Homo sapiens: one gene and its partners. The protein of the gene in region 4 purifies or fractionates together with the protein of the main gene of each other region. This does not show direct contact. Each region holds a gene or a part of one and is shown on either strand. Other genes may lie near its edges.

Region 1 (4,312 bases), on a different chromosome or scaffold from region 4:
GACTTTTCTTTGCTTTTCCTACCTTTATTTTCCCCATGTGTGTGTGTACACACATACACATACAACTTTATCTTGTGTGTATGTATATGTATCTTATACCATGGCAGCCTATAAATGAGTAAATAGATACTAAGCCAGTGCCTTCCTTCCCACTGCCCACTGCAGCCCACCTTTTGTTCTCTCTACCCTAGTCAAGCAGCCTGCTTCTCTACTGCCCATCATTTTTGGTAAACCCACTGCCAGGAATGCCCTGCTGTTTCTCTCTGCCAGCTGCAGTTCTATGGCCCATGCCGGCAGTGCAGTCCTGTTCTGTATTGCTGGCCTGGGCACAGGCCTCCTTGAGGTCTCCTGGTCTTCTCTGAGTGCCCCTCTGAGCCCAGCCAGCTCTCTCTCAGCATGGTGGCTTCCCAAAGCCAGCTCTGGTGACAATCATGTCACACTCTGCTACAGAAACAAAGTGTCCACGGATTTCTCACTCTGGCATTTAAGGCCTCCCCATTTAGGGTCACCCCAAGCACCTGTTGACGCTAGCTTATCCCCTTCCCTCAATCACACACCAAGGCTCCACCAACCAGATTTTCCCTGCTTTAAACACGTCCTATGCTTTCCTTCTTTCCTTTGTTCATGCTGTTCTTTCCTTCTAGAAGTGATGCTCCCTCCCCCACACCCAGCCTTCCTCCCCATCTCCACCTGTAAAAATGTCCTCATTCCTTGGGCCAGGGTGCACGCATTAGTGGCCTCTCCTGCTGAGAGCTACCTCACTTCCACATTAGACCTCGTGCAGTGGGGAGTAAAAGAGCCACCTTCCAGCTGGGAAGCTGAGGTGCCCAGGTACAAACCCAAGGCTATCTTGACCCCAGCCTTCTACTTTCACTGACCTGGCTGTGCTAAGCCCCTTGTGGATGGGCTTCTCAAACTCAACACTACTGACATTTTGGGCCAGACAATTCCTTGTTATGAGGGCGTCCTGTGCACGGAGGATGTTCAGAAGCATCCCTGACCACTATCTATGAGATGCCAGTTAAACCCCATTCCCCCTCCCCCAATTTATGGTGAGCCAAAACGTCTGAAGACATTGCCAAATGTCCCCTGTGGGGAGGGGAGGGAAGGGCTATCAGTCCTGGTTGAGAACTAGTGGTCTAGCTTGAAGGTTGGCCACTGTTACAGCATTACGTTCTGCCCAGTATTGAAGTCACCTACGACCACTAAAACAATCTCATGCGCAATTTGATCACAATACTTTTGTACACTGCACAGCAATAGTTCTCAAATGGATTGCATCAAAATTTTCTGGGATGTTTGTTAAAAATACGTCTCACTGGGTCCTACCTTGGTAGATGTGGGGATGGGCCCCAGATGTGTGTTTTTAACAAGTTCTTTGGAGAGTCCCAATGCACAGACATCCGGGAAACCAATTCTACTGATACTTCTAGAACAGCACTGTCCAAAGAACTTTCTCCAGTGATGGAAATATTCTATATCTGCACTGTCCAAGATGTCACCATTAGCAACATGGGCAACTGGGCACTTGCAAGGATGCTAGTGCAAGTGAGGAAATGAACTTTTAATTCAACTGAATTTTAACTAATTTAAGTCGGAACACCCACATGTGGCTGCAGAATTGGAGAGCACAGGCCCAGCTCTTCCGCTAGGAGCCTTCCCAAAGGCTCTCATTTAATGACACCTCCTTCCTTGTTACGCCACATGCTGCTGAAATGCAGTGCTCAGGGGCTGCCCGCTGATTGAGAGGACAGGGAAGAATGACTGGACCCATGTCTAAATAATGTCCCAGAAGGGGAAACTCACGGTTTCTCACAAGCCTCAAGAGGTTAGATATGTGCCTTTCCGGCAGGCATGGCCAGAGCACACCCGCCTCTTCCCTCTGGGTCAAGTGTGGCCCATCACGGGCCACATTCAGTGCCCAATGTCCCTTCTCCCTGGTTCCTGGAAGTGATGGGTGGGCCCAGACAGCCTGTTACAAACTTACCCCCTACTGCTGGATATGCTTCCCCAATCCCAGTGCCTCTGACTCTACTGCAGCACAATCCTGTCTGTATCTGGAATGTCAAAGCACACCACAGCCCCATCAGAGAGTGCAACAGGGCTGTGGAATCCAGTCATTTGGATGTGGTTCCAGCTCTGAATTAAGGAGCTGGGAGGCCTTGAGCATGCTCTATCTGGTTTGCGGCGTCACTGTCCTCACCTGCTTAGAGCCACTTCATGAAGTGCCCACACTACTGCTCTTTCTTTGCGTAAGCCAGCCTTGTTCAGAAACAGTCTGGGGCCCATGTGATGGGCGCATACTGTATTTGGGTAGAAAGTGGGGGTTGGGGGGTTGTGTATGTAGAACCAGTAAGGGGCTTATGGCTCTACCATTTGGTGGCCCCTTGGCTCCTACTTTGTTGAGAGCAGACCAGTGGAGGGTGCTGCTGGGCAGAAGTATTGGCCAGAGCGGCCCTGAGGGGTCCTCCTGTCTCGAACGTGAAGAAGAGGTGCAGCAGCCCCCCATCTAGACCTGCAAGCAGCAGACGGAAACCTCATGCCACACATTCACCAAGTCCTGAGCTGAGCAAGTGAGGCCAGGTGTGAACAGTTTATACAGCGCCACAAAGCAGTGCTTCTGTGTGGCTGCTCTCAATGTGGAACACAATTATGAACATGACCCCAAAGCACACACCTTCAAAACACCTGGATTTGGACTGTGAGTAAGCAGAAATGCCAACACCCCATCCCGAAAGAAGCAGAATGACGGCTGCCTCTGCCTGGTCCCTCTGGGACCTCTGGTGGCCGCTCTAGCACCTGCCTCGTGAGAGGCCCAGCAAGCTGGCTCCTGGGCAGAAGTGAAAGGATGGGGGTACATCTACCCAGATGAGGGGACCCCTTAGCTAGAAAAAGGGACACAGGTCACAACACCCTGTGCAGTCTGTTTGCAACCTGCCATGTATCCTTTCTCCCAAGGGGCCCAAAGGTCAGTGGTAGCTGGATGAAACGCTAGGCATACCAGGACGATGACGAGCTCACTGTCACCCTGCACTCAGCCCAGTCTGACCTGACTGTGGGCCCAGCCTGGAGCCCTCAACAGCGCGACTCTGGGAGAATGTGAATGAAACGATCACCACTCACCCCGGCCAGTGTGCCACACCTTGGGAGCTGGTGGGATGGAGAGCGGGCAGTGCAACCCTTCCCCTTGCTGGCAGGCACAGCGGAGATCGCCTGCACCTTGTCTGCCCCTCTCCCTTGTTCCTGCTCCTATGTTTGCCCTTCAGGTTGGCTTCTGTATGTTCCTGGAACCTCAAAGGAGTCCCATGTGACAGGTGATTCCACAGGGGCTCTCTCCTGAGCTCTGGAGCCTGTCTCTGCTACTGAGAGCCGTGGGGTGCCCTAGTTTAAGTTTCTGAGCCTCAGTTTCCTTATCTGTGATTGGAGTCTCATAACTGACCAACCAGGAGATACTCCTCAAACCCCCTCCTCTCGGCCACTGCTTGTCCTCTGGTGACACACAGACCGTGGGACTGCTGGGGCACCTGCTCCTTGGTGAGCCTTCCTGACCCCCCCGGGGGGTGGGTCTCGAGTCTGCTCTGAGAGCTCCTTGAGCAAGGCTGGAGAGGCCTAGCTTCCCTCCAGGCCTGTGTCAGGCTCCCCCTTGCTGCAGCCCTGGGACTCCTGGTGTCCTGCCCGCCCTGCCCCAGCAGCTCCATGAGGCCTCCAACATTAAGCTGTGTGCTTCTTTTGCTTTTGATTCTCATCAGCCCAAAGGTGCCCTTCCATCTTCCCAGGGCCCTTCTTTGATCTGTCAGGGATGTCTACCCTCAGAGGCCTATAGGATCAGTGGGGGATGTTGGAGAGCTGCTGTGTAGGGACAGGTCCACTGTAAAGGATGCCAGCCAGGGATCTGCATGCTTGTTTTCTGGTGGCTTACTCAGGCAGGGACATCTGACTAGATGCAGGGGAGGCCCAGGTGTGGGCAATGGCTTCCCCTGCTGAAACAGTTTTCATCTGATTCTCTCAAATGCCCTTAGAGGGACAGTGTCCCACATGGAATAGGGCTGGATATGGAGGAAGCAAGCCTGAGTGTGAATCCTAACTGTAACTTACATGCTGTGTGACACTGGGCAAACCAGACTACCTCTCTGAACCTCAGTTTCAGCATCTAGGTGTCTCTTCAGGTTGGGGCTGGTTTGTGGGTGATGCGCAATGGTCCCACAGATCAGTGGGGAGCCTCAGGAGCTGTTCAGGGCTGGGTAGAGAAGGTGGGCGGGACAAGGAGGGGGCATCTGTCTGAAGGGGGGAGCTGTCTTGAGTAGACTGAACC
Region 2 (4,312 bases), on a different chromosome or scaffold from region 4:
ACTTGGGAATTCTGCCTTCTCTCTGCCTAAAGATTGTATTACCACCTTAGATTTTGTACCTGTAAACTAAGGGAACACAGATTTCATTTTGGCAGAGATCCAGAATTTCACCCTTCTACAATGTAATTTCATTAAAAATAAAATAAAACAACATACAGAATCAATTACATTTTGCTAGGCCTGTGGTCGGACTTTCTAGTTCTCGCCCGAGTCCTCTTATCCTTAGGTCTGTGATAATCTGTGGTTTCAAGTTCTCAATAATATGCTCTCAATATATTATAGCTTATTTTACTCTCTTTACACACTTTTTTGTAAAAGAATTATTACAGTATGTATGTACCATCTAGTTCCATGATCAGAATTTGCATCTAAGCTGTACATAAAACTGCCACTTTAGATTAAAGCCAGTGAATGTTTTGTAAATGAGCATTAACCTGAAGTAATAACACATGTTTATCTGGCAGCCTGCAGGCAACTGAAGAGATCAGCTGTAGAGGACCCCAAATTACCAGCACTGTTCTGCATTATTCAGTTTTAACCTTTAAGACAGGAGGACACTGTGAGCCCAACTTGTGTTTGAACTTGTGTTGACATTTATATAATCATGATTAGTAACTTTTGCTTTATCAGAAAAGTGTTTGTCCAATAATGAGTAAATACTTGAGACATAGTCTGGCAGTTATTGTGGAAAAATGAGAGATGAGTTAGCCATGGCCTCTGCTCTCAGGGGCTTATAATCTAAGAGGAGAATGTATTCATATCAAGAGCCGCCAGTACAGAATTAAAGACTGTGGAGCAAAATGGCCAAAGCAGCGGTGTTGTCAATAAATGGTGTAGAGGGGCATAGGCTGAAAGAATGCTTCTTTGAAGGATGGAACTGGATTGGTGGAAAGAAGGAAAAAAAAAGAGTAAAGGGAGGGACAAATCTTTGGAGGTTTGTAACACAGTAAACAGAGCAGCTCCCAACAGAATGGAGTTGCAGTGGACATAAGTCACAGATAAGGCCTGACATTGAAAATAAAGTCAATTTGTGGCAGATCCTGATCCCCAGAGAAAGAAGTTTAGGCTCTATTCTGGATATAAAAAGGGAGAGAGACCAGATCAAATGGATGTTTAGGAATACTGATTTTAAAGTATCCCAAGTAGATTTGAAGTAGACCAACCAGAGTCCAAGAAATTAGCCTTGAGACTAATTTCATAATCCTATCATAAGGTCACAGGCTTTTGAAGGAGAGTGATGTAACAGTGCAGTCTACAAATTATGAATTATGCCATTCTCCCACAAACAGAGGCGTTTCAGCATGAAAAGGGAATTTGGCATAGGTAATGTGATGACCTAGATGGTTAGAAGGCCAGGTATTGCCCAGTCTTTTTCTTCCCCTTAGCTACAGATAATTTATTCATAGGGCCTACCTCAAATACATTTTTTTTCTGTTTTAATTATAGGAGCTTTACATTGGGCATTTGCCTTCCAGCTAACTGTGTGACCAAACGTTTTTGTATAATCACTGTTCCTATAGTTATATTAATGGTTATATGGAGAAGTCTAGGCTAATGAATGTTTGTTATAATAATTATAAAATTTACATTAGGCTTGTTTAATGTTCTATAATGGTGACAATATTATTTTCCATTTGTTTTTTGCCTTTAGCCAGCTTAGAGGAAAAGAGATGATACTATAAAAGTAAAATATTCTTGGGTTCTATGTAACCATTATATATTAACTCAATTCTAATTATGAATTTTGGACTTAGGTGACTTTTGAATAATATATATGTAAAGTAGACATCAACCTTCTGTTTGAAATATTGATTGGAAATTATAAATGCCTATGCATACTCTTGGACTTCAAGTACTTTCTATATGGGGAAGCAATCAATAGAAATGTTGAGGCAACTTAGAAATGGATTTTTACACTTCAGATTTTAGATATGCCACATTTTAAGAAATGCATCATTTTACCTTTGATAAACAAGTAGCCATTTCCTGGATTCAACTGGTGTCCAAGAATTAGTCATAATTGTGAAAAAAATTGCCTTTCCAGAGTAAAAGTTATTATGTCTTAATGTATTGTGTATAAATCTACAGTTCTAAATAAATAAGCATAATTTTCTCAAAATATTTCTGGCTTGGATAAAGCTAGTTTTGACTAGTGGCAAAATAAAGCCCTATTTGCCTTATCTGCTGATATGAGATTTTGGAGTCTGTGGGCTAAAGTGGGGAGCCCCTGACTCCTTGCAAAAGATACTCAGAGTGCCTTAAATTAATATTATCTCGGCAGGGCAGCAACTGGGCCAGCAGCCCTAGAGTCTGTAAAGGAAGGCAATACTTTCTTGGTGGGAGAGAGATTTTAAGAGATCACATTTTCAATGCACAAAGAATTTCTTTTAAGATTTTCCAAACGAGAGGGAGGGTGATGAGAGTCCCCATTTAATGTCATCCATGTGAATTTTCAAACTTGAGAACTGAGTCACAGCATAGGCTGCATGGGTGGTGGTGTGAACCTGTGGAGACTGGTGTGTGCTGTAAATGTGTCAACCTTTTCTCAGCTTAGGAACCTACCAAAGTACTAAAGGCCGCTGGGAGTCAGGGAGTATGAGATCGGAGATGAATAATGAGGAGGAGAGACTGAACAAAAGTCAGGTGGGGTGTTAAACATTTAAAAGAATCAAAGCTGGATCTCTGGCAACTGCTTTGCACCCTAACCCTGAGGCAGGAAAGCAAAATGTTGAGACTCAAAGTTAGAAAATGTAAAAGGAAATTAAGGAGGAAATAACAAAGGGAAAGAAAATTTTTAACTGTCATCAAATGAATGAAAACAAAATGACAGAATGACGAAAACAAAAAATAGGAGAAATAAAATTTTCCTTTCATTTGTTTTAAATGATAGTCTGACTTTAGTAACGTGAGTATATACTCTTTTTTCTTGTTGTTTGCAAAACCCCATCAGCCTTTTCAATTGTGTCAGGGAAAGAGAAAAGATGCCACAGCATTTGTTTTGAGCCACTCCATCACTGTGTCCTAGAGATGATAACAAAACTTGTCAGCAACTTCTGTACATCATATATTTTCTGTATCAGAGTTAAGATGTAGAAGCGATAGAAAGTTCTGCCCATTTTTAGCAGTATCAAGACCTAGTAATAGAATTGCTCGCATGTAAGCCCTCTTCCTTCTAAAAGAATGCCAAATATAAAGCATAATTCAGTAGTTATTTGTATTCCTTTGACATCTAAAAAAGTATCGATAGAGCAGTGGAAATAGTCAGTGGAAATGGGACCAGGGTTGGGGGAGGGAACGGTTCAGGCAAAGTTTTTAGAGATGTGAGATTTGTGCAAATTCCCCAGTGAACAAATTTCCATTAGTAAGTCAAACGTTACAATGAATCAGGTAGAGATAATATCAGAAAACCCAATATTAGCAACACTTCACATCCTTCTCAAGCAATGCTTCTAAGTTTGTGGATACTTTTGCTATATACATCTATACACCCAAAACATGTCAGCGTCAGGAAAACCAGTATTACACAGATTTACTTTTCTGATTTATTGGATTCTAAGTAAGGGTTTGTGAAGCAATCCTTGCTCAAATTCTTTTGAACATGGTTCTATGTTGTCACTTACACTTTGTAAACATATAATATATCCCCTGGCTATAGTTATAATAGCATCATGATAAATCAAACCAAAGTGCACCCCCCCACACCACCATCCCAAGCCAGATAATTGCTATTTTCAGATATCTCTGTTTGATGTCTGTATTTCTGTGAGATTTATTTTATGCTGATTTGCAACATATCATCCTATAGATTATCCATGCCATTTCAGAGTCATTACCTTTACTTTGGGTTGGTCTTCAAATGAGTTATTTTTCATATTCTCTAAGAGTGTTTCCCTCATTCTGGCAAGTATGTAGTGACAAATTCAATAGGTTAAAGTCCCTGTTACAAAGTTATATAAAGAGTTGTACTGAGAGCCCTTATGAAATGGGGACAATACCCTCTCTTAGGACATGTGTTCTTTACTTTAGAATTGTTAATTCCATTTTCTTACAGTCAGGCAGGTGCCAGAAAACAAAACAACTTGCCAAGACAGCAGTCCTCAGAGATGAGCATTCTAAATATTAGTAAATGATTATCTCCCACTATTAAAATCAATGATTGGTTCTGTCACTGGTTTGTAGCCATCATCATGTTTCTGCTTAGCTCTGGCACTTTCTGAAAGGAAAGTTTCTGATGTGGCTGAGTGCTAGTTTCTGGAAGAAACTGGAAGCTCTATTGTGAAGTAACTGGAAGGTGGTTGCTGCATTGAAGTTA
Region 3 (4,889 bases), on a different chromosome or scaffold from region 4:
AAGGGTTCTGGAACCAATCTCCCATAAATACTAAGGGACAACTCTACCCATAAAAAATAAATACAAGAGATACATAAAACTGAAAGAAACTCTTCTATCTTAAATATTCCATGTTAAAAATGAACAGAGCTCCTCCTTTACTCTTCAAAACCAACAGGTCCGTTTTTTTAAAAAAGGACAGTGACATAAAATTATTCAGTAAGGCTGGGCGCAGTGGCTCACACCTGTAATCCCAGCACTTTGGGAGGCCGAGGCGGGCAGATCACCTGAGGTCAGGAGTTTGAAACCAGTGTGACCAACATGGAGAAATGCCGTCTCTACTAAAAATACAAAATTAGCCGGGCGTGGTGGCACATGCCTGTAATCCCAGCTACTCAGGAGGCTGAGGCAGGAGAATTGCTTGAACCTGGGAGGCGGAGGTTGTGGTGAGCCGAGATCTCGCCATTGCACTCCAGCCTGGGCAACAAGAAGGAAACTCTGTCTCAAAAAAAAAAAAAAATTATTCAGTAAGAACCCAGCAATATCATATAAGTGACAGCTAGTAATTTTAGTTGTAAGTTTAATGACAGTATCTGATTTGCTCTCCTAAGCAGCAAGCAGAGAGACCCTAAAATACAAATGAATATGCTCACAGATACAAGCAGACCGATACTTCAGAATCACCCCCCATTCCTATATTCTACATAAATGGATTTCAATTAGTCAGATGAATGTGAAAGACAGTGCATTTCTTAACTCTTAGAAGTAAAACTGTTTGTGAAATCTAAATTAAAACAATGAAATCATAAAGATGAAGACTTGCTAGTGATTGCTAATGTCCAGGTAATAAAACCTGACTTAAAACACTGTATTTTGAAAAACAAGTCAAAAATAGAAACTCCTTAATGACAATGTAGTAAGGCTCCACCTTAAGTACTTGCAGATAATTCATCTGTCTAGATATGCATGACTTCAACCTCCTCTACTGCCTCACAGTGAACATTTTAGACAATGCCTTACACAGTGAAATTCCATTCAGATCAAAACTCAGAAAGTGTTACATTAACAAAATCCAGTAAAATCTGATAAAATAGTATAAATCATTTCAAAACACCTTGGTAAATAGATCTGTATTTACAGAACCTCCTTGAATATATAATAGGTAATGATGCAATGAAGACATTTTTATAATATTTATTAAGATAACAAATTTATAAATTGAAAGACTCAGAGGCACATAGTTTAAAAGGCCAATACCATGGGAATAATGAAGTCAACACAGAAAAGTAAGAAGATATGAACAGTTACAACCAATAGAAGATTTTCTTTAAAAGCCACATTCCCCTGGTGAACACATCATAGGAATCATCCTTCAAAATTACCATGATAAAAAGTTATTTCCTTCAAAGAAAAATAATTCTTTCTGCCTACCGAGCCTAGAAAATCCTATTTACAATGCAGTGTCCTGCCTTTCATCAGTATTATTTAATATGGCCTCCTCTATTCTGCCATTAGAAGTATGGAAAATTTTATAGCTACTGTATTTACAAATGCACATAATATTTAAATTTGCTCTTCATTGAGAACAACCAAATATATACTTAATCAAATCACAATACAAATGCTTTATAGTGTTGAAGACACATCTTATGGGGGAAAGGTGTATGGGAAGAGGTTTATTTAGAATTACGGTGTTTCTGAAGGATTACTAGGCCAATAATTCTGATAAAACTCAAGGCAGTCACAAAAACAGGTCTTTGTTGATGAAGAGTTTAATTTATTTCTGTTTTAACTGGACACACTGGACTTCTTCAGTCAACCTTCACCACACTGTATATTTTGGTAACAAACCAAAAGCATGCAAAGAAGCCAATTGTTCCTATAAGAGAAAAAATAAAAATAAACCCCTTTTCAAAGGAAGTTTCATACTTTACACAAAAATACAGACTTACAATGACTGGTTCCTTAAAAAAGTCGCAAAACTATAAACTATTACCCACCGGGAATATACTACAGATCTATGAGCACGTCTGAAAAATATACGACCACCTCAAATCAAGTTTCTTACAAAAATTGGTAGAACTTTTTTCTACTATAAGATTACCTAAGCTTTCTACAATACACATTATTTTCCTTACTACATAGAAAAGACTGAAGGATGTCAACTGTCCTTTCCTATTTAAGAATATTTTACAACAAAATGGAAAACGCTACTAGAATTTTTTAAGGTATGAGATGAATACATTAAAACAGGTTCAAATAATGATTAAATGGGGATATTTTCTAAGTACAGTTATTGGAAGTTATCAGTCTTCAAAGAATTATAATAAAATAACTCAGTAAGTTTTTACAAAATGTTAAAAGTGACATGATTAGATAGTAACAAAAATGCATCCTAGCTGAAAATGAGGGACAGCATGGTAGCAGAGAACAGAGCAGCTCTGTCACAAACTGTGTGTGTCATCCTTGGGCAAGTCCACTGACATCTCCAAGCCCATTTATCATATTAACTAGGGAGAAATTTATCTGTCCTCATTGCCTCCATAGACTATTATGTAGAGTAAATGAGATAATTCATGAAAACAATGTATGGCTTGATTTTCAGGTATCAGTCTAGATTCCAAAGAATTTGAATGCTAGATGGGGACACTCTTTCAATGAGACAAAAATGAGGTTCAAAGGGGTTAAGTGACTGTCTCATGGTCACATGGATGGTACTTGTGGCCAGAAATCAAATGCGTTTTTTCTGACTTCAAGCATAGTACTCCTTGCACATGCACACATAAGGGACTATAAATAATCCTTGTATAAATTTTACATTTAAAGTCCCAATAGTTTTCACCATTGTTTTAAATGCAGTACTCTGAGAAAATATTAAAGGAGATTTTCTAAATCAAGAGACTATACATGGGACATTACCGTGGGAAATTACAAACATCATTATATCCATCCTTACATTGTACATGTATTGAGGCCCTACTATATGCAAAGCACAATGTGTGTTTTGGAGGACATACAAATATACCTTTTGCATAGTCAAAAGGATAATTATTCAGGCTAGGGCTGGGGTTAATTTCAGAAAAGCAATAATGAAAACTCAGTATATTTATATAACTTTGTACTTACTTGCATAAATTTCAAGATGACAAACAATATTTTAAGATGAGAAGAACATTTAATCACTATCCAGGCAACTCTAAGAAACTTAAGTTTAGTTACTTAATTTTGTTCTTAATATGGAATATATGTACGTACTAAAAGTGGCGTCTTTCCTTTTGTGACAGAATAATTACTTCTGTTTTGTAAAATGGATTGACTTAAATACAATAAAATGGCATTGCTCTGGAGTACTGAAGCAAATACAGACCATACCCTATTTTAGAGAAAGGTAAGGCATTTAAAGGGCTCACTACTCCCTTATCCAGAATGCTTCCACCTGTTCACTAAAGGAAAAATACAATTGAAGAAAGTGAAATACACTATAAGTTACTGGTTTAACTGGTTGGTTCCATTTGATATGACTCCATAATTCAGATTACAAAATTCAACTCTGAATGAATGAAAATATAACACTTTAAAAAACAAAATCAGCTGGGCGCAGTGGCTCACGCCCAATCCGAGCACTTCGGGAGGCCAAGGCGGGCAGATCGTCTGAGGTCAGGGGTTCGAGACCATCCTGGCTAACATGGTGAAACCCCATCTCTACTAAAAATAAAAAAAATTAGCCGGGCGCAGTGGCGGGCGCCTGTAGTCCCAGCTACTCGGGAGGCTGAGGCAGGAGAATGGCGTGAACCTGGGAGGCAGAGTTTGCAGTGAGCTGAGATCGCGCCACTGCACTCCAGCCTGGGCAAAAGAGTGAGACTCCGTCTCAAAAAAATAAAAATAAAATAAATAAAAATAAATAAAATTTAGGTGATGGTTAAGCTATCATTTTCTGTATCATATGTCTGGAAAAACAACAGATATTCACAATGATCGTTATTTTTTGTGTGTAGGCTAGGAATAAATTATTCTGTATATGCATTTATGGACACACAGGGCACAAAAACAGTCATTCCTTGTTTCACTGGCTACTGCTGTTTTATAGATGATTTATTAAAATTTACAGCTCTGGACCTAAATTTATCACGTAGCACCAAGACACGCACCCCACCATGTCTGATCAATGACCTGGAATACAGAATCGATGGAAGTGCCTTAAGCCTGAGACAGCAGCAGAGGCCCTTCAAAACCCGACTCCAGGCTCTGAAATGCTAACAGATGAGTGAAAAGTAGAACAGTTTTAATTGGAGGAAAAAAACTTGTTCTTTTTTCTTTTTGGCTCCTGCATTTTCTTCCATGACATGCGTGAGGAGCTAACATTTTAGATGCACGCTTCGGGCAGCGTTACTTGTGACAAAGGAAGGTGCTATAATTCCTAAGTTCAGTCACTCACGCGACAAATGTTTACCAAGCACCCGGGGCTGTGAGATACCGAAAACTTTCATCTAGTTGGATAGAGAAGATATATACATATATAAAATAAATACCAATAAAATACACACTATATCCTGTTCAATGCTTGAATTTTAAAGTGGAGATAAAAGCTTCTAGATTAAGGAATGTCCCATTATCTTTCCTTGATATCCCCTACCTACTCTCAGCCTCATCTTGACTTCACCTCCTCAATTTCTACTTACTCCTAAACTTAAGTCACTATAGCTTCTACCCTATTTCTGAAGTGGCAAAAAAAAAAAAAAGGACTGTGTGTACCTTTAAGAGGTTAACAGACGAAAACCATGAGCTGTACTGGCCCATGCGTCCCTGAACCTTTACCACAATTATGACCCTGTTTAGCCTTCTTCCCCAGCTTCTGTTTCATCATCTTTATGCAACTCACAGGTGGGCAGACCCAACTATGCCTAGTTGTG
Region 4 (5,302 bases):
TCATTTCCAAATGAAGAAATTTGAGACTGGGATTCATCAAAATCACCTAGGAGGCTTTTTCTAACTACTGTGTATTTCCTCCCAAGTTTTTTTTTTAAAGACAGGGTCATACTATATTTCCCAGGCTTGACTCCTGGGCCTAAGTGATATTCCCACCTCAGCCTCCCGAGTAGTAGCTGGGACTACAGGCATGAGCAGCCACCACACTTGGCTCCTCATAGATTCTGACATAACAGCCTCTAACCCCTCATAAGAAGCACTGCCACTTCAAATACAAATATCCTGGTGTGCTAGGTAGGAGAAAAGTTCCAAGAACCAACTTACTATTTTGAGCATCAAAATGCTCAAAATAGTAAGTTTTGCAAAATGCTTTGTTACAAAATAATTTAATCCCATTGATCAAAGACTATCTGAAAACCCTTAGGGGATGAATCAGTATTTAAAAAGGTGGGACAAGGGTGCTCTTAATATCCATATTGACTAGAAGGCACAGGAATACTCTCTTCCTACAATCCACAGTCAAATGCAGGAAGCTGATATTTGCATGGAATACAAGGGCTACCTGCCAAATGCTAGCTTCCGTTGTGCCGCCCTCTTTAAACTATCATCTATCATGCCCTCTTTAAACTACCATGCTCGCTATACTAGTTGTAAAAACAGACTGGTAAAGTCAGTTCACTCTGAAGTTGCCAGTGTCCTTCCAGGGTCTTTTTTTTTTTTCCTTTTTTTAAATTTCAGAGACACAGTCTCACTCTGTCTCCCAGGCTGGAATGCAGTGGCATAATTATAGCTCACTGCAACCTGAAACTCCTGAGCTCAAGTGATCCTCTTACCTCAGCCTCCTGAGTAGCTGGGACTACAGAGGCACACCGCCACCATGCCCGGCATTTTAAGTGAAATACTTTAAGACACGTTTGACCCTAAAGTATCACACTCACAGCATTGATCCCAGAGAGCTGCTGAGAGAGCTGGAGCACAATGGAAATGATGATGGGCTGTCGGTAGCTGGACACTCTAAAGAGCTCTAGCACGGTGACTTGCTTTTCTTGTGACATCCTTGCACTCTCATCTTTCATCTCCTGGATGTCTTGGGATACATCCTGGGTGCCCCACAACCGCTGGAGGACTGGTGAAAAGAAGAAAGAGGAAAGGATAAAAGAGAATGTGCTGCCCCAAATTCATTCTTCCTGTAAGGCAGCCAGGAAAGGGCCGCACGAGGTGAGGTGATGGGTAGCATCCATTCCTTTTTTTTTTTTTGAGACAGAGTTTCACTTTTGTTGCCCAGGCTGGAGTGCAATGGCATGATCTCAGCTCCCTGCAACCTCCACTTCCCGGGTTCACACGATTCTCCTGCCTCAGCCTCCCAAGTAGCTGGGATTACAGGCATGCGCCCCCATGCCCGGCTAATTTTGTATTTTTAGTAGAGACAGGGTTTCTCCATGTTGTTTCAGGCAGGTCTTGAACTCCTGACCTCAGGTGACCCGCCTCGGCCTCTTATAATGCTGGATTACAGGCATGAGCCATCACACCCTGCCTGATAGCATCCATTCCTAAACCCGCCTTTTCACCTCATTCTTTAGGGGCTGAAAATTTTACTCAGGAGTAATCAGAACCCTCCTCACTTGGATTCTGAGAGGCAGGGAAAGAGTGTAACAGAAAGTAGGTCCAGTACAATCATCCCTAAAACAAACCACAACCATATAATTCATGTAGTAAGGTGTGAAGGATACTCACTCTGCTTAGCATTCTCCTCTTCTTTTCTGTTAATGAGCAAAAATCTGGGACTTTCAGGGCAAAATGGAAGGGCTGCACTTTGTAGGATAGCAGGAAGGATGGTAAAACCCAGTAGCAGCGGCCATAGCTCTTCAGACCCAAGGATGAATTCCAGACCAAAGATCTAGAAACCACACAAAGATAATGCTATAAACCCCATACTTCACAGGCCACAAGTTCATTAAAACACAAAAAGTTCAGAAAATCATACATTCTTTTACCATGTGAAAAAATAAACAAATTGTGTTTCTTTTCCTTTCTCTACTCAGCATGGTTTTTTTTTTTTTTTTTTTTTTGAGACGGAGTCTTGCTCTGTCACCCAGGCTGGAGATCAGTGGCACAATCTCGGCTCACTGCAAACTCTGCCTACCGGGTTCACGCCATTCTCCCGCCTCAGCCTCCGGAGTAGCTGGGACTACAGGTGCCCGCTACCACGCCCGACCAATTTTTTGTGTTTTTAGTAGAGATGGGGTTTCACCATGTTAGCCAGGCTGGTCTTCATCTGCTGACCTCGTGATCTGCCCACCTCGGCCTCCCAAAGTGCTGGGATTACAGGCGTGAGCCACAGCGCCCGGCCTCAGCCTGCTTCTTCAGCTACTATCTATTATCTAAAACTTCCATATGTAATTGAACATGTGCCAGATATTCTTCAGTGCTTTACCTATGTTAACTTTTTTAATGACCCATGAAACTAACACTCATTAAGTATGAGAAGTTCTAGAGTACCTGGGCCACCAGAATTCCAACAACGATGCCCAGCTGGTTGAGAGTGCCAAAGGCACCCCGCAGGGCAGTAGGCGAGATCTCTCCAATGTACATGGGCACAAAACCTGTGCAGAGTCCGCAGAAGAGGCCAATAACCAAGCGACCCAGGATCAGCATTTCAACCGACTTAGCTACTTTACACAGTCCCATAAAGCAGCCACCAGTGACAGCCAACAGGTTGACAATCAGCATTGAATTGCGCCTGTAAGGTTAATCAAAGACAAAGTAGAATTAGCAAAGTGAGAGGCTCCTAACTTCTCCTCTGTCCTCATTATTCTGTTCTTCTCCAGGCTCATATCATCCCTTTTTTTTTTAATCTAACTTTTGTTTTTCACTTTCTATTATCAGAACATTTCTAGTTGGGAACCAGGTGTGATGGTGCCCGCCTGTAGTCCCAGGCACTCAGGGAGCTGAGGTCGGAGGTCGAAGCTGTAGTGAGCTATGATTGGGCCATTACACTCCAGCCCGGGTGACAGAGCAAGACCCTCTTTCTTGGGGGGTAAAAAAACAAAAGAACAACATAATCAAGTAAAACAGGTTGCTTTACCGATTTTTAAATGTGAATTCCAATTGCATTTCTAGAATATCTAATTGGCATTTTTTTTTTTTTTTTTTGGAGACGGAGTCTTGGTCTGTCACCCAGGCTGGAGTGCAGTGGCAGGATCTCGGCTCACTGCAACCTGCGCCTCCCAGGCTCAAGAGATTCTCCTGCCTCAGCTTCCAAGCAGCTGGGATTGCAGGCGCATGCCACCACGCCCGGCTAATTTTTTGTATTTTTAGTAGGGACAGGGTTTCACCGTGTTAGCCAGGATGGTCTCGATCTCCTGACCTTGTTATCTGCCCGCCTCAGCCTCCCAAAGTGCTGGGATTACAGGCGTGAGCCACGGCACCGGCTTTTTTTTTTTTGAGACGGGGTTTTGCTCTTTCGCCCAGGCTGGTGTGAAGTGGCCAGATCTCAGCTTACTGCACCCTCTGCACCCCCACTGCAGGTTCAAGTGATTTTCCTGCCTCAGCCTCCGGAGTAGCTGGAATTATAGGTGCCTGTCACTACGCCCGGCTAATTTTTGTATTTTTGGTAGAGACAGGGTTTTGCCATGTTGGCCAGGCTGGTCTCGAACTCCTGACCTCAGCTGATCCACTTGCCTCGGTTTCCCAAAGTGCTAGGATTACAGGGGTGAGCCACCACACCGTGCCTAATTGGCAAATTAAAACAGTTCCTTCATTAGTCATAAATGAAAATATATTCTACCTTCTAAAACATATTGTTAAGCTTCTATAGAATAAGACTTTTTTTTTGTCATTATCCACATTTGCCATAGACAAAAATAATTCCTACCAATCCTGGGTAAAATAATAAAAACATTTATAATACAAGTAAACAACTTCGGACCTTGTAAATTAAGTATGTTTCTAGAAACCCCATAGTTGAGTTTACTAGGGAATAATTCTGAACTATCCCTAGCTGGACTGCAAAGGCCAATCACTCACAGTTCATCTCTTGCACAGCTGGGTGGGAGCTCTCCAGGGTAGTAGAGCTCCAAGCAAGGGCAGTCATATTCGGGGCCAGTTGGACTAGGTTTCCCTTGATTAGAATTCAAGGTGTTCTTATTCAAAGGCATCATCACCTCCCTGCCCTAACTCTCCACACTTGTCCTCAATGTGGCTGGTAGAGCCCACTTCCTTGCCCAGTTTCTAGTCAATACCTGCCAAAGCGGTTGACGAAGAGTCCGACGGAAAAGGAGCCGATCATACCCCCGACGGAAAATATGGCCACAGACAAGGACCAGAGAGACGTGAGCAGCACCTCAGAGGGTGGGGCATTTCCCTTGTCCGTCAAAGTTTTATTGATAAATTCCTTTATGATCTGCAAAATAAAAGGGTTGGTGGAAGAACAGACTGTTACAGTTGGATGAGAACAAAAGACAAACATTAGGGATCATTTCCTTCCTAGAGAATCAAGGGAATAAATAGACAGGAATGGAAGGGGCAGATAACGTATTGGAATTTATGTTAACTCTCGCTGGAATAGTAATTCTATTTGTCCTGAAAATCCCAGTAGGTGGCAGCACCGATGTTCACAGTCTACCCCAGCCCTCTGCTAAGGGAACCCAGCTTCTTTGTAACTAACCCCTAAGGGATAATACAGGATGTGCATCACTATGAGGTGAAAGAGTGGGAGGAAGAACAGCACCGCCCAGCGTTCCGGGAGTAAGTGAGCTTTGTGCTTCGATTAGATGACCCCACTAATTTTCCCCACCAATATTGTCTCCATCTTCAGTCTTGGACAGGATAGATACAAAGTTTGTCTTAAAATCCCCTAGTTTGGGGAGGGACCCTCACTAACTGTGTTGCTCAGGATGGTGTTTAACTCCTGGACTCAAGTGATCTTTAAGCCTCAGCCTCAGGAGTAGCTGGGACTCCAGGCAGATGCCACCATGCCTGGCCTTAAATTCTGAATTCCTGAAACCCTACTTAAAGGAATAACTTCCCTATTCTAAATTCTAATTATTGTGGCCTGGCACTCACCTTCTCAGGAGCATTGATGACCCCAGTGTTGTAGCCAAATTGGAAAGAGCCGATTGTAGCAACTGTGATGGCAAATATCAGAGCTGGGGTGACCTGGAGGGAGGGAAGACAGAGGAGAGAATAGTCCTTAAAACTTGTGATTGATGACTGTTTCTTATTAATTATGGAGCTGTATTAGGAGAATTTGAGTTATGAGTGGTATGAAAAGAACATCCAATGAGATTTAGGTAATTAATGG

The links.
Region 1: the proteins of SLC2A3 (region 4) and RAB6B purify together in Homo sapiens (affinity purification with mass spectrometry; one large-scale study listed by BioGRID and IntAct). This does not show direct contact.
Region 2: the proteins of SLC2A3 (region 4) and ALDH1A1 purify together in Homo sapiens (affinity purification with mass spectrometry; one large-scale study listed by BioGRID and IntAct). This does not show direct contact.
Region 3: the proteins of SLC2A3 (region 4) and TM9SF2 fractionate together in Homo sapiens (co-fractionation; one large-scale study listed by BioGRID). This does not show direct contact.

The regions. Positions count from the first base shown.
Region 1 is NC_000003.12:133,829,883-133,834,194, forward strand, and holds part of RAB6B (ras-related protein Rab-6B), read right to left. Parts: intron 1-4,312. UniProt on the Homo sapiens protein: The small GTPases Rab are key regulators of intracellular membrane trafficking, from the formation of transport vesicles to their fusion with membranes. Rabs cycle between active GTP-bound and inactive GDP-bound states.
Region 2 is NC_000009.12:72,943,054-72,947,365, forward strand, and holds part of ALDH1A1 (aldehyde dehydrogenase 1A1), read right to left. Parts: intron 1-4,312. UniProt on the Homo sapiens protein: Cytosolic dehydrogenase that catalyzes the irreversible oxidation of a wide range of aldehydes to their corresponding carboxylic acid.
Region 3 is NC_000013.11:99,559,660-99,564,548, reverse strand, and holds the end of TM9SF2 (transmembrane 9 superfamily member 2 precursor), read right to left. Parts: intron 1,859-4,889; coding exon 1,791-1,858; 3' UTR 501-1,790; downstream 1-500. UniProt on the Homo sapiens protein: In the intracellular compartments, may function as a channel or small molecule transporter.
Region 4 is NC_000012.12:7,928,746-7,934,047, forward strand, and holds part of SLC2A3 (solute carrier family 2, facilitated glucose transporter member 3), read right to left. Parts: intron 5,158-5,302; coding exon 5,065-5,157; intron 4,403-5,064; coding exon 4,242-4,402; intron 2,741-4,241; coding exon 2,500-2,740; intron 1,898-2,499; coding exon 1,735-1,897; intron 1,127-1,734; coding exon 939-1,126; intron 1-938. UniProt on the Homo sapiens protein: Facilitative glucose transporter. Can also mediate the uptake of various other monosaccharides across the cell membrane. Mediates the uptake of glucose, 2-deoxyglucose, galactose, mannose, xylose and fucose, and probably also dehydroascorbate.